Linked DNA regions of Homo sapiens: region 2 is linked to region 1. The links come from fine-mapping of genetic effects on gene expression. Tissue or cell type: whole blood. Region 1 holds a variant in brackets; the other region holds the start of a gene. All regions are shown on one strand. Distances are between the middles of the regions.

Evidence for each region. PIP is the estimated chance that this variant, and not a neighbour inherited with it, causes the effect.
Region 2: FAM171A1 starts here. The variant in region 1 is fine-mapped to the expression of FAM171A1 in whole blood (TOPMed, PIP above 0.99).

The regions. Positions count from the first base shown.
Region 1 is chr10:15,168,737-15,173,937 of GRCh38, reverse strand. LOC105376434 (a long non-coding RNA gene) reads left to right here. Exons shown (of 4, transcript XR_930699.2): 4 at 343-1,094. It also overlaps the pseudogene LOC124902566. Among named protein-coding and RNA genes, the nearest start is that of NMT2, 2.6 kb to the right of the region's middle. RefSeq lists a silencer at 5,046-5,201. The variant C/T (reference allele first, on the strand shown) is at 3,077.
Region 2 is chr10:15,368,071-15,373,183 of GRCh38, reverse strand. It overlaps FAM171A1 (family with sequence similarity 171 member A1), which reads left to right and starts at 1,895. Exons shown (of 8, transcript NM_001010924.2): 1 at 1,895-2,228. The coding sequence starts at 2,132. RefSeq lists silencers at 1,849-1,898, 1,909-2,138.

The DNA of each region.
Region 1 (5,201 bases):
CAGGAGTTTGAGACCAGCCTGGTCAACATGGTAAAACCCTGTCTCTACCAAAAAATACAAAAATTAGCCAGGTGTGGTGGCACATGCCTGTAGTCCCACATACTCAGGAGGGTAAGGTGGGAGAACTGCTTGAACCTGGGACCAGAGATTGCAGTGAGCTGAGATCGCGCCACTGCACTCCAGCCTGGGTAACAGAGTGAGACCCCATCTCAAATAATAAAAATAAAATTAAATTTAAAAACAGCTTTAGAAAGATATTGGGCTGGCAAACAGGGAAAAAAGGGGTGTCATAGATTCATTCATTCGTTCTATAGCTCTTATGAAGTGTCCTCTTTGTTACAGGCACTGTTTGGGTGATGGAGATACAGAGAGAAGCACATGACGTATGATTCTTCAGGAGCTGCTGGGCTAGTGCTGGGATGATGGCAAACATATAAACCCTCGGCAGGGGAGGCAACATGGGAGCTGTGTCCTTGGTGATGGCAGGTAGTAAGGAAAGGGCATTCAAGGGCCTGGTGCCTCCAGAGACGAGGAAGGGAGCCCGGGGCATATGGAGGGCCTGGAGAGGCTCAGGTCAGAGCTAAGACCAGAGGTACAGTGAGGCTATGGTGTGGAAGGGACTTGAACACCAACCTAGGGGGATTTGACTTGATGCAGAAGGCAACTGGGAGCCACATTGTTTCTAAGTCAGGGGATGAACATGCTCCGATTGCTATGGAAGAATTTTCCAAGCAGCGCTATTGAAAAGAGTGATGGAGCCTGGATGCAGGGAGACATGGCATCTGGAGGCTGCTGCAGCCCTTGGTGTGTATACAGCTGGCGCTCACCTCTTCCCCTTCTTTGTTTCCTCCTCCCTTTCCTGATTTTCCTCTATCTCTTTCCTCTTCTTTACCTACTGCCCTCACTTTCTTCATCAGTTACTTTCTCCTCCATCCTTTCTTCCTGAAAGGGCCAGAAGCTCTAATTGTGGACAGGCTAGAACAGATCCTTTTGCCTCCTTTAGTATTTCTACTTCGAGTAAAAATGTCTGATGAGACAGTGTACTTCTGTAATATATCATCCTTATCAATAAAATAACTAATGAAGTTTGGCAATAAACTATCCAGTGATATACTCGTGGGGAAAACCTGAACACATTTAAGGAGTTTGGCAAGCAGTGCAGTTTCAAGGTGACCCTATTTATAGAATGGAGGCACCTTCCACCTCCTAAATGAACACATACTTCCATCTGCTGTGGCATTGTTCGGCTTCCTCTAGAATTTTCCTTGGCATCACCCGCAAGCCCCAACTTGTCCTACAGGGACAAGACACAGACTCACCAACTGTGAAGTTCTGAAATGCAGCTGATCTGCAATACTCACTGTGGCACCAACCTGCTGGTTTGAACAAGTATGAAAACCTTTTAGCAGAATACCAAGCAATAGGAGGTGCAAATTACCCTCACAGTGACCACGAGAAAAGCTTCTCCAACGCACAGTTGCAAATGGTGCAGGGTAGTTACCGGGTTCCTCAAAAATTAAAAAGAAACGGAGTCACTTAAAAAATAAAATAAAATCCAGCCAGACTCTAAAGCAAACCAGCTAGCAAGAATAGCTAGTGTATTGCAAAAGTAATGGGCTTTGCTTTTGTGAACCCAGAATGGAAAGTGCAAACTAATGGTTTGGCATAAGTCTTTTTCAGACATACCCAGATATACAGATAGTGATCGTGATAGTAAAAAAAGGAGTGTCTTTAAGATTTTTTTTCTTTTTTTCTTTTTTTTTTTTTTTTTTGAGACAGAGTCTTGCTCTGTCACCCAGGCTGGGGTGCAGTGGCGCCATCTCGGCTCACTGCAAGCTCCACCTCCTGAGTTCACGCCATTCTGCCTCAGCCTCCTGAGTAGCTGGGACTACAGGCACCCGCCACCACACCCGGCTAATTTTTTGTGTTTTTAGTAGAGACAGGGTTTCACCGTGTTAGCCAGGATGGTCTCAATCTCCTGACCTCCTTATGCGCCCGCCTCGGCCTCCCAAAGTGCTGGGATTACAGGCGTGAGCCACCGCGCCCGGCCTAAGGATTTCTTTTGGTCTTTGTTTTTCTGTAAGTTGGTTAGTTATTACTGCATAATAAAGCACTCCAGGCCGGGCGCAGTGGCTCACGCCTGTAATCCCAGCACTTTGGGAGGCTGAGGCGGGCGAATCACTTGAGGTCAGGAGTTTAAGACCAGCCTGGCCAATATGGCAAAACCCCGTCTCTACTAAAAATACAAAAATTAGCCCAGCATGGTGGCGGGCGCCTGTAATCCCAGCTACTTGGGGGGCTGAGACAGGAGAATCGCTTGAACCCAGGAGGCGGAGGTTGCAGTGAGCTGAGATTGTGCCATTGCACTCCAGCCTGGGCAACAAGAGTGAAGCTCCGTCTCAAAAAAAAAAAAATGGTTAGGATAGTACGTTTTATGTTGTATGTATTTTTCCAAAATTAAAAAAGAAGTTAAAACAATTTAAATGAAACAAGACCAATTGTACAACTATAATCTTACATCTGTAGTAGGAGTGGGCCAGGCAGAATAGAAAATTCCCAAAGGCCTTTTAAAATACACTGGCAAGATACTACTTAGCCCAGGGCCTGGTGGCTAGGCTGGTTCTCTCCTTTCCAATTGGAGGCCTCTGCCGCAGACACGCTCCACCAGATCATCGGTCAGGCCAAGAAGCATCCAAACTTGATCTCCCTCTTAGTATTTATTGGAGCTAGAGGTACTGGAGCAGGACTGTATCTCTTGCGTCTGGCATTTTTCAATCCAGATGTTAGTTGGGACTGAAAGAATCACCCAGATCCCTGGAACAAACTGGGTCCCGATGATCAATTCAAGTTCTACTCAATTAATGTGGATCACAGCAAACTGAAGAAAGAAGGTCCAGATTTCTAAATGAAATGTTTCACTATAAAGCTGCTTTAGACTGAAGGTCTTCCAGAATCCGTCCGCACAATTTTCCACTTCACCAGGAAATAGTTCTCCTCTAAATGAATGAAATCATGTTGATGTAATCTATTGGAGATTACACTGATTAATAAATAACTGAAACTTGAAAAAATAATA[C/T]ACTGGCAGCCATTTCACAGTGCTCCCATCCACCAAATAAACTTTAGATCTAAGATGCTGGAAGTTGCCACTTGGTTCCAATTCTCCAAATTCTGAAATTAAGCCAGGGAAATAAGTAAAAATATTTAGAAACATAGTGTTTCTATACGGGACAGTAGGATTTAGGAAGCCCCAGGGTCATCTGTAAACTTTTCCTTCCTTCCAAAGATTAATGCTGTAAAACATTTGTATTATATAATACTTCAATCCAGTACTGTACCGATGTACTTCAATCCAGTACTGTACCAACTTGTTTCCATTCTGGGGAACAGATGTTCCCTGTTTGTCATTGTTTTCTAGTGTTTCACTGGTTTTTGATGCCCTCATTTTATTTTTCCAGGATTATTTGTTTTCTTATTCTTTTTTAGAGCAGTTCTTAGTCAAAACTTCTTGAAAATTCAGATAAATATATGACTGCTGAGTTTCCTTTGCCTTAAGTTTTAAAAACTCTTTTAGAGAACCCTTCTGGCAGGTTAGAGTGGATGATTTGATTGATAGGCTTGCTCCTGGCCAGTTTCCTGTTGGTTACCCGAGCGGGCTGCGGGTTCTCCAACAATCCATGTTCACAGAGATGAGCTGCAGGAACCTCACTCATCTGTATTTGCTTCTATCCTAAAGTTTCACAGAGGTGACATGTGACATTTTGCCTCAGAAATAGTTGCCGTTGTTAAAGGCAATATTGTATTTCCTTTTGTGTTTTGACCCCATTTGCCCTTCTTACAGAATTTTAGTTGTCTCAATGCCAAACAGCTGACGGGCTTTGAAATCGCTCTGCAGTTTTCATCTTTTGATACTTCTAGCTCATTGCGTTTTAAAAACATAGTCTCCCTTGGGGAAAAAAGCCATAAAATGCTCCTAGTATCTTCTGCAAAAAAAGGACCCACACCAAAAAATTCAGGTGGCTCTTTAAAGTCTCATTTTCCTCACTGAGCGGGTTCTGATGATTATCTTTGCAAAACCACTGCGGAGACTTCCGGTGGCCTAGCAGCACATTTGAACAAGATCATCTCAGCAAAGCAAAGGACAGGACTGCTCTGTACAGAATGCAGTAGCAAATAAGAGAGGCTGAACTTCACCGGTCTTCTATTTGGCAGTACTACAGAATGCCTCCCTTCCCTCTTCTGAGAGAGACAGCGGACAATTTCAGCACAGAAGGCCGTGCACGTTTGCTTGGAAATCTAGGTCATGACCTTGACTTTGGGAAAGCCAGGGTAGCCTACCTGAAACTGTCCAATCCCCCAGCATCGTGGACACGTCCCCAAGTCCCTCAAGATGTCTGTTCTGGTCTGAGCCGTCCGTAGTAGTGTCCAGGGAAAGCAGGGGTAGCTCAAAAATTTCTGTCAAGAGTTTTAGTGCTGCAAGCCTGGTTGGGACAGGGCGGTGGAGGGCTGGAAATACTGTTTTTGACTTTGAATTTGATTTTATAATGTATTAGATGGATAGATAGATGCGAAATGGAATTGTTAACATGTATGTGGAGGGGCGGGAAGAGTTTCTGGAAAGCCCCATCCCTGAGTGCCTACTCCTGAGTGGGAAAAACCCCTGCACGGGCTGGGAGCGCTCCCTAATTCGTCCAGAAGTAAAATCGCATGGCCTGTGTTCCAAAAATGCCGCCACTCAGGATGTCAAGTCTGCACGTTTGCAGCTTTGAGAGCCGAGCCCCAGGCAGAGGCACCGCGCAGGCCTGGATGTACAGGACTCGGCCCTGTGCAGGGCTGGCCAGGGTGAGCAGGGTTGGAGCTGGCGGGGCGGGGAGGGGCGGGGCCATCTGGGAGGGGCTGCGGCGGTGGGCGGGGTTAGAGGGCGGGTTTGAAGCCGGCAGGGTGGGGAAAGGCGGGGCTGGAGGGGAGGGGTCTCAGAGGCGGGCGGGGTTAGAGAGCTGGATTGAAGCCGGCGGGACGGGGAGAGGCGGGGCTTGGTGGGGAGGGACGAAGAGGTGGGCGGGGTTCAAGCCCGTGGGGCAGGGCGGGGCCGGCGGGCAGGGCGGGGCCGGCGGGCTGGGCGCGGACGGTGAGGGGCGGGGATGGAGGGCGGGGCGGGACGGAGGGCGGGGAGGGGGCGGGACGGAGGGCGGGACGGGGCGCGG
Region 2 (5,113 bases), 200 kb before region 1:
AGCATTGGTCCTAAGGGTGACTATAAAACCCATATGGGCTTCTGTACGTCCTAGTTTTTCTCATGTCTCACAGTCATTTGTCTTTTATAAGCCAACTGGGCAAGTGCCATCCTTCATTCTTTTTTTGGTACGGTGCCTGCCATGTCTAAATGCTCAATTAATGAAATTACAGTAATAACCCTCCTTCTGGCCTGGTGTTCTGGAAGCAGTGTGGGGTGGATGATGGGTCTGGAGTGGATTTTCCTAGGTCCCCAGTGGAAGTCGGAAGGTCACCGCAGTGCTAGTTGGAAGAGAAGGTGGAGAGGGACAAGTGGAGGTGAAGGTTGTGTGGAAGGCATACCGACAGGAGTGGGTTGAGAGAAAGAAAAGTTGAGGTTGGAATGGAGGGGGTCCCTAGGCTCAAGGAAAGTCTAGAGGTTTGGTTTTGTTTTGTGTGTGGTTTTTTTGGTGGTTTTATTTTTTGATTTTTTTTTTTTTTTTTTTTTGAGACGGGGTCTCAGTCTGTCATCCAGGCTGGAGTGCAGTGGCACGATCTTGGCTCACTGCAACCTCCCCACTCCCAGGTTCAAGCGATCCTCCCACCTCAGCCTCCTGAGTAGTTGGGACCACAGGCATGGGCCACTATGCCTGGTTAATTTTTTTGTATTTTTGGTAGAGACAGGGTTTCACCATGTTGGCCCAGCTGGTCTCTTAACTCCTGAACTCAGGCCATCCACCTACCTCAGCCTCCCAAAGTGTTGGGATTATAGGCATGAACCATCACACCCAGCCAAGTCTGGAGGTTTTTGTGAAGAGTTTCAATTTTGGGGTCAGACTGACTGTTTTATTAGAATTTTGGCTCTGCCACTGACCAGGTATGCACTTTTGGACAAATTCCTTAACCCTCTTTAGCCTCTTTTCTCATCTGTGAATGGGGGGGATAATGCTAACTACCTCTTAGATCATGTATTGTGAAGATGGACAAAGAGTCTCTGCTTGACCGAACTACAGTCAGGCTCCGGAACCTTCTTCTAGGCTCAGTTGTGCCCTTCCTTGTAAAATCTGCTTTCAGGAAGAACCCTGCTAAGTCAGTTTACCAAGAACCCTCCACCCTGGATATCTGATCAGCTTCCCCATCCGCCCTGTCCTGCCCAGCCCTGCCAGGGGATGTCTGACTTTCAAGAATCCCCCTTCCCCCTGATGTTTCCTCTTATAATTTTTCATTCCCTGCATCCCACCCTGGTCCTCGGTTATAAATCCCCACTTGTTCCTGCTGTATTCAGAGTTGAACCCAACCTTTCTCCCCGACTGCAGAATCCCATGGTAGGGCTTATACCTATTGCGATGGTTCCAAAGAGGGTCTTCTTTGCTGTGCTTTCACACGTGTCATGGAATAGTCTTTTTTCTTTAATAGGACAGAAAGTTTTAAAGCACCTAGGGCCTCAAAAGATGTGGATTTCCTCCCCACCCTAACCCCTAGAACCATCCAAGTACCATTCCTCCTGAAGCTGTCCACCCGCCAACACGTAGGTACTGCAGGCCTACTGCAGTCTATACTGGCTTGGGGAGTGTTTTTGCGGATCTTTAACACTGGGTGTGAAATCTACGTTGGGGGACACAACTACATTAGGATGGCACCTGGTGGGGGGGTCACACCCAGATACAATGTCTCCTGCGGCCCCTTGGGTGACCTGGTGTGATGAAAAGGGCTCCGCCCTGAAAGGCAGGTCTGGCTCTTCTGCGGGGCTGCGGGGATGGGGCGCGCCGGGGCAGTGTCGCCGGGGGTCGGGCTGGGGGCGCGACGCAGCGGCGCCGGGCGGGGGCGCCCTCGGCGCCGCAGCCGCCAGGTGGCACCACGGGCCCGGGGCCTGGGCGCGGGCAGCGGCGGCGGCGGCGGGCGAGGCAGGAAGGGGTTAAGGAGCTGGCGGAGCAGCAGCAGCCGCCGCCGCCGCCGCCGCCGCGGCTCTTCGGGGAAACCCGGCGCGGGGCGCGGGAGGGAGCGGCCGGGGCGGCGGGGCCGGGCCAATCGGGCGGCGGGCCCGGCGCGCGGAGCCAGCGACATGGAGGGGGGCGCGGCGCCCGGCCGCCCGTGACGCGCCGCCGCCCGGCCCGCTCTCGGCGAGCCCGAGCCGCCGCCGGCCCCGCGGCGGAGATGAGCAGGTCCGCGACGCTGCTGCTGTGCCTGCTGGGCTGCCACGTCTGGAAGGCGGTGACCAAGACGCTGCGGGAGCCCGGCGCCGGAGCCCAAGGTCAGTGGGCGGCGGCGGGGCCGGGGGCTTTGTGTCGCGCCGGGCCTGGCGCGGAGGCGGCGGCGGCGGCGGCGGCGGCGGGAGGGTCCCGGGCCGCGTGGTGGCGACGCAGCCCGAGCCGCATCGGGAGCCTCCGGGCCTGCAGCACCCGCAACGCGCTCCCGAGGGGGCGGCGCGGGCCGGCGACGCGGGGTGACCCGGGCGGAGGCTTCGGGGGCCGGGGATCGGGGGCTGGGTCGGGCGGGGGCGCGGGCAGCTCCAGCTGCTGTCGCCGCTGCGGCGGGGGCTCGTCTGGATGCGCCCGGGGGTCCCCTTTATGCCGCGCCTCGGACACGCGGCTCTGTCTCCCATGTCGCCGCGGACAGAGGGGCCGCCCAGGGCGCGCCGCCCGATCGCGCTCCCGGCTCCCCACGCCGGGCTCGGGTCTGGGAAGTCCCAGCTCCTGGGCTGCGCTGGGGCCTTTTGTTGTGGCGGGAGGGGGTGGCTGACGCCCCGGGGTGCCCCCTGTGTCCCGGGGCCCCGAGGTCCGCTGCCGCCACTAGCCACTAGCCTGCCGCAGTTTGGGAAAGTTTGGGGGGTTCTCTCCCCCTGCCTATCTGACGTCTCTTCCAGACCATAAGGGATTTGCTCAGCGGCCCATGAGTCTTCTCTGTAAGGGAAGAAAGAATTGAACTGGGAGGCCCTCATCGCTCACCAAAAAAAAAAAAAAAAAAAAGAAAAATCCTTTCCAGATCAGTTTGTCGCCAGCTCGTGCCTTTTGTCTCGTCTTTGGCCTCCACAAATCTGCTTTCCAGCCCTGGGAGTAACGTGGTCGCCTCTGAGAATGGCCACGAGCCTGTCTTTTGTTTTTAAAATCAGCGTTTTTTGAGGGGAGTCCCCCACACCCACCCTGAGGCTTGCTTGGCACATTTTTGTGGGGACAGCGTCGAGGACTCCTCTGTTGCTGGCGTTTTCAAAAGGGCCACTGAGGCCCGCAGATGAGCCTCTGCATTCACCCAGGGCACCGCTGCCTGGACTCTTGCCGGGGGCTCAGGTCTCTGCGAGGGAGCTCCCTGCAGCCCTGCAGAACCCCGGGATTCCGAGCCCGAGGCCTGTCCCCTCAGAAGGGTGTGTGTCCTGCAAAGTTGGCCCTGCAGGCCAAAGAAACGAGGAGTGCTGCATCCGAGGGTCTCCTTGCTGGAACCCCCTTTCCTCGGCTAACATGCTCAGGGTGCCTGGGAGCAGAGACGCCCGGGCTTCCACCACGATGTTGCTACGGGGAGGAAAGGCTCTGCCAACACTCTGTTGGGTTGAGTTTGTTGCCTACATGTTGAGTTGAAGGTTTTCATATTCTGGCACTTGCAGTATCATTTCCTGGTATATCTTAAATGCATTGCTGCTTCTATGGCCATGGTAGAATATGACCGTTATGAATTGTGTATAATTTTAGTAATGCATATCATGGAAGAGCGGACAGCTACAAAATACAAAAAGACCTATATGTCTCTTCGTGTAGGAAACGAATGTTTAGGACATTAGATCATCAGTGTTGCATTGCAGCTTCTTTTATTAATACCCTACTGCTTTTTTGAATCAGCTATTTTAGAGAATGATATTTGCACTTCAGCGAGGCCGTTAATTTTAAAGAGCAAGTTGAATTTTTCCTTTTGCACTTGAAATACCAATATATGGAAATATTAAATTCATGCACTTCTGAATTAGAGAAAGGAAGGCATGTCTTCAATATATATATATATATATATTCAATATATATATAACAGGTTTAGGTCTAAGACCACGTTTTACCCAGCTCTTGCTGCTAAAAATCCGCCTCTCAGGAATGGAATATTATGCGAAATGGGAGGGAAATGGTCAACATGAGAAGAGGTTTCTGCCATGGCTAGCAGTGGCTTAGTTTAGGGTATGGTTGGAGTGGGAGATCAAGTATCTTGGCATAGTTTACCCCTTGGATTACTTCCTTTGTTGTTATCTACTGTAAGGATGGCTTTTTAAAGCCTTGAGCCCAGGAACTCTTTCAGAAATCAGGTCTCACTACCTGGCATTTGGATTTTGAGCTAGCAGCATTTTTAAGGGAATGGACAATTTCTCCTTTGACATTAGAAGGTCAGTCCCAACTCACTGAGTTCTTCAAAGCATCTTAATGTTCACTTGCTGTAGTATGACGTAGTTTTAAAATTCATGTGTTCTCTGCTTTCCTGGATCATGTACACGATGAAGACAAATGCTGCATCTGATTTCACTTTGCATTTCCCACAGTGGGTTGTAGGTTGTTATGCATACAGTTGGTGCTCAGATGGTGCTGAGTAGGTAAGCATCAACCATAGCTAATACCTACACCATAACGCAACCTTTAGTGATCATCATTGGCTTGCATTTTAAGAAGAAAAGTTCAATGTTTACCTTCCCCAAAAGCTAATTTGTAAGAATCTTGCTTTTATGTAGAATCTGTTGTTTGAATCATTCTTTGAACAAGCATTGCACATACATATTATGCACCAACAGGATTTGGCAATTACTTTGGTAAAACTGCTTAGAGACCTCAAACAGACGGAAATCATATACTGTAGTAGTCCAACTAGATTGCTAGAACTAAATGACACCTTTTTGATTAAATGAGTCTTTATGTCATCTGATGAAACTAGCATCTGCAGAATTTCTTGGCATTACTTTGCTTTTTATATATTCAAGATAAAATTGGAGGCTTGGCTTCAGACTCTCTTCCCGTAGCTGCTTCGAATTGGCAAAGTGATTTCCAATGCCACAGTCAGTTGTCACGGTAAGGGTTGGCTTTGTTTATCATGAATTTGAACTAGCTCTAGACTATGACTATTTTTATTAAGTGTTTCCTCTCAGTTGCTCTGGAGCATTTATAGTATCGAATCTAT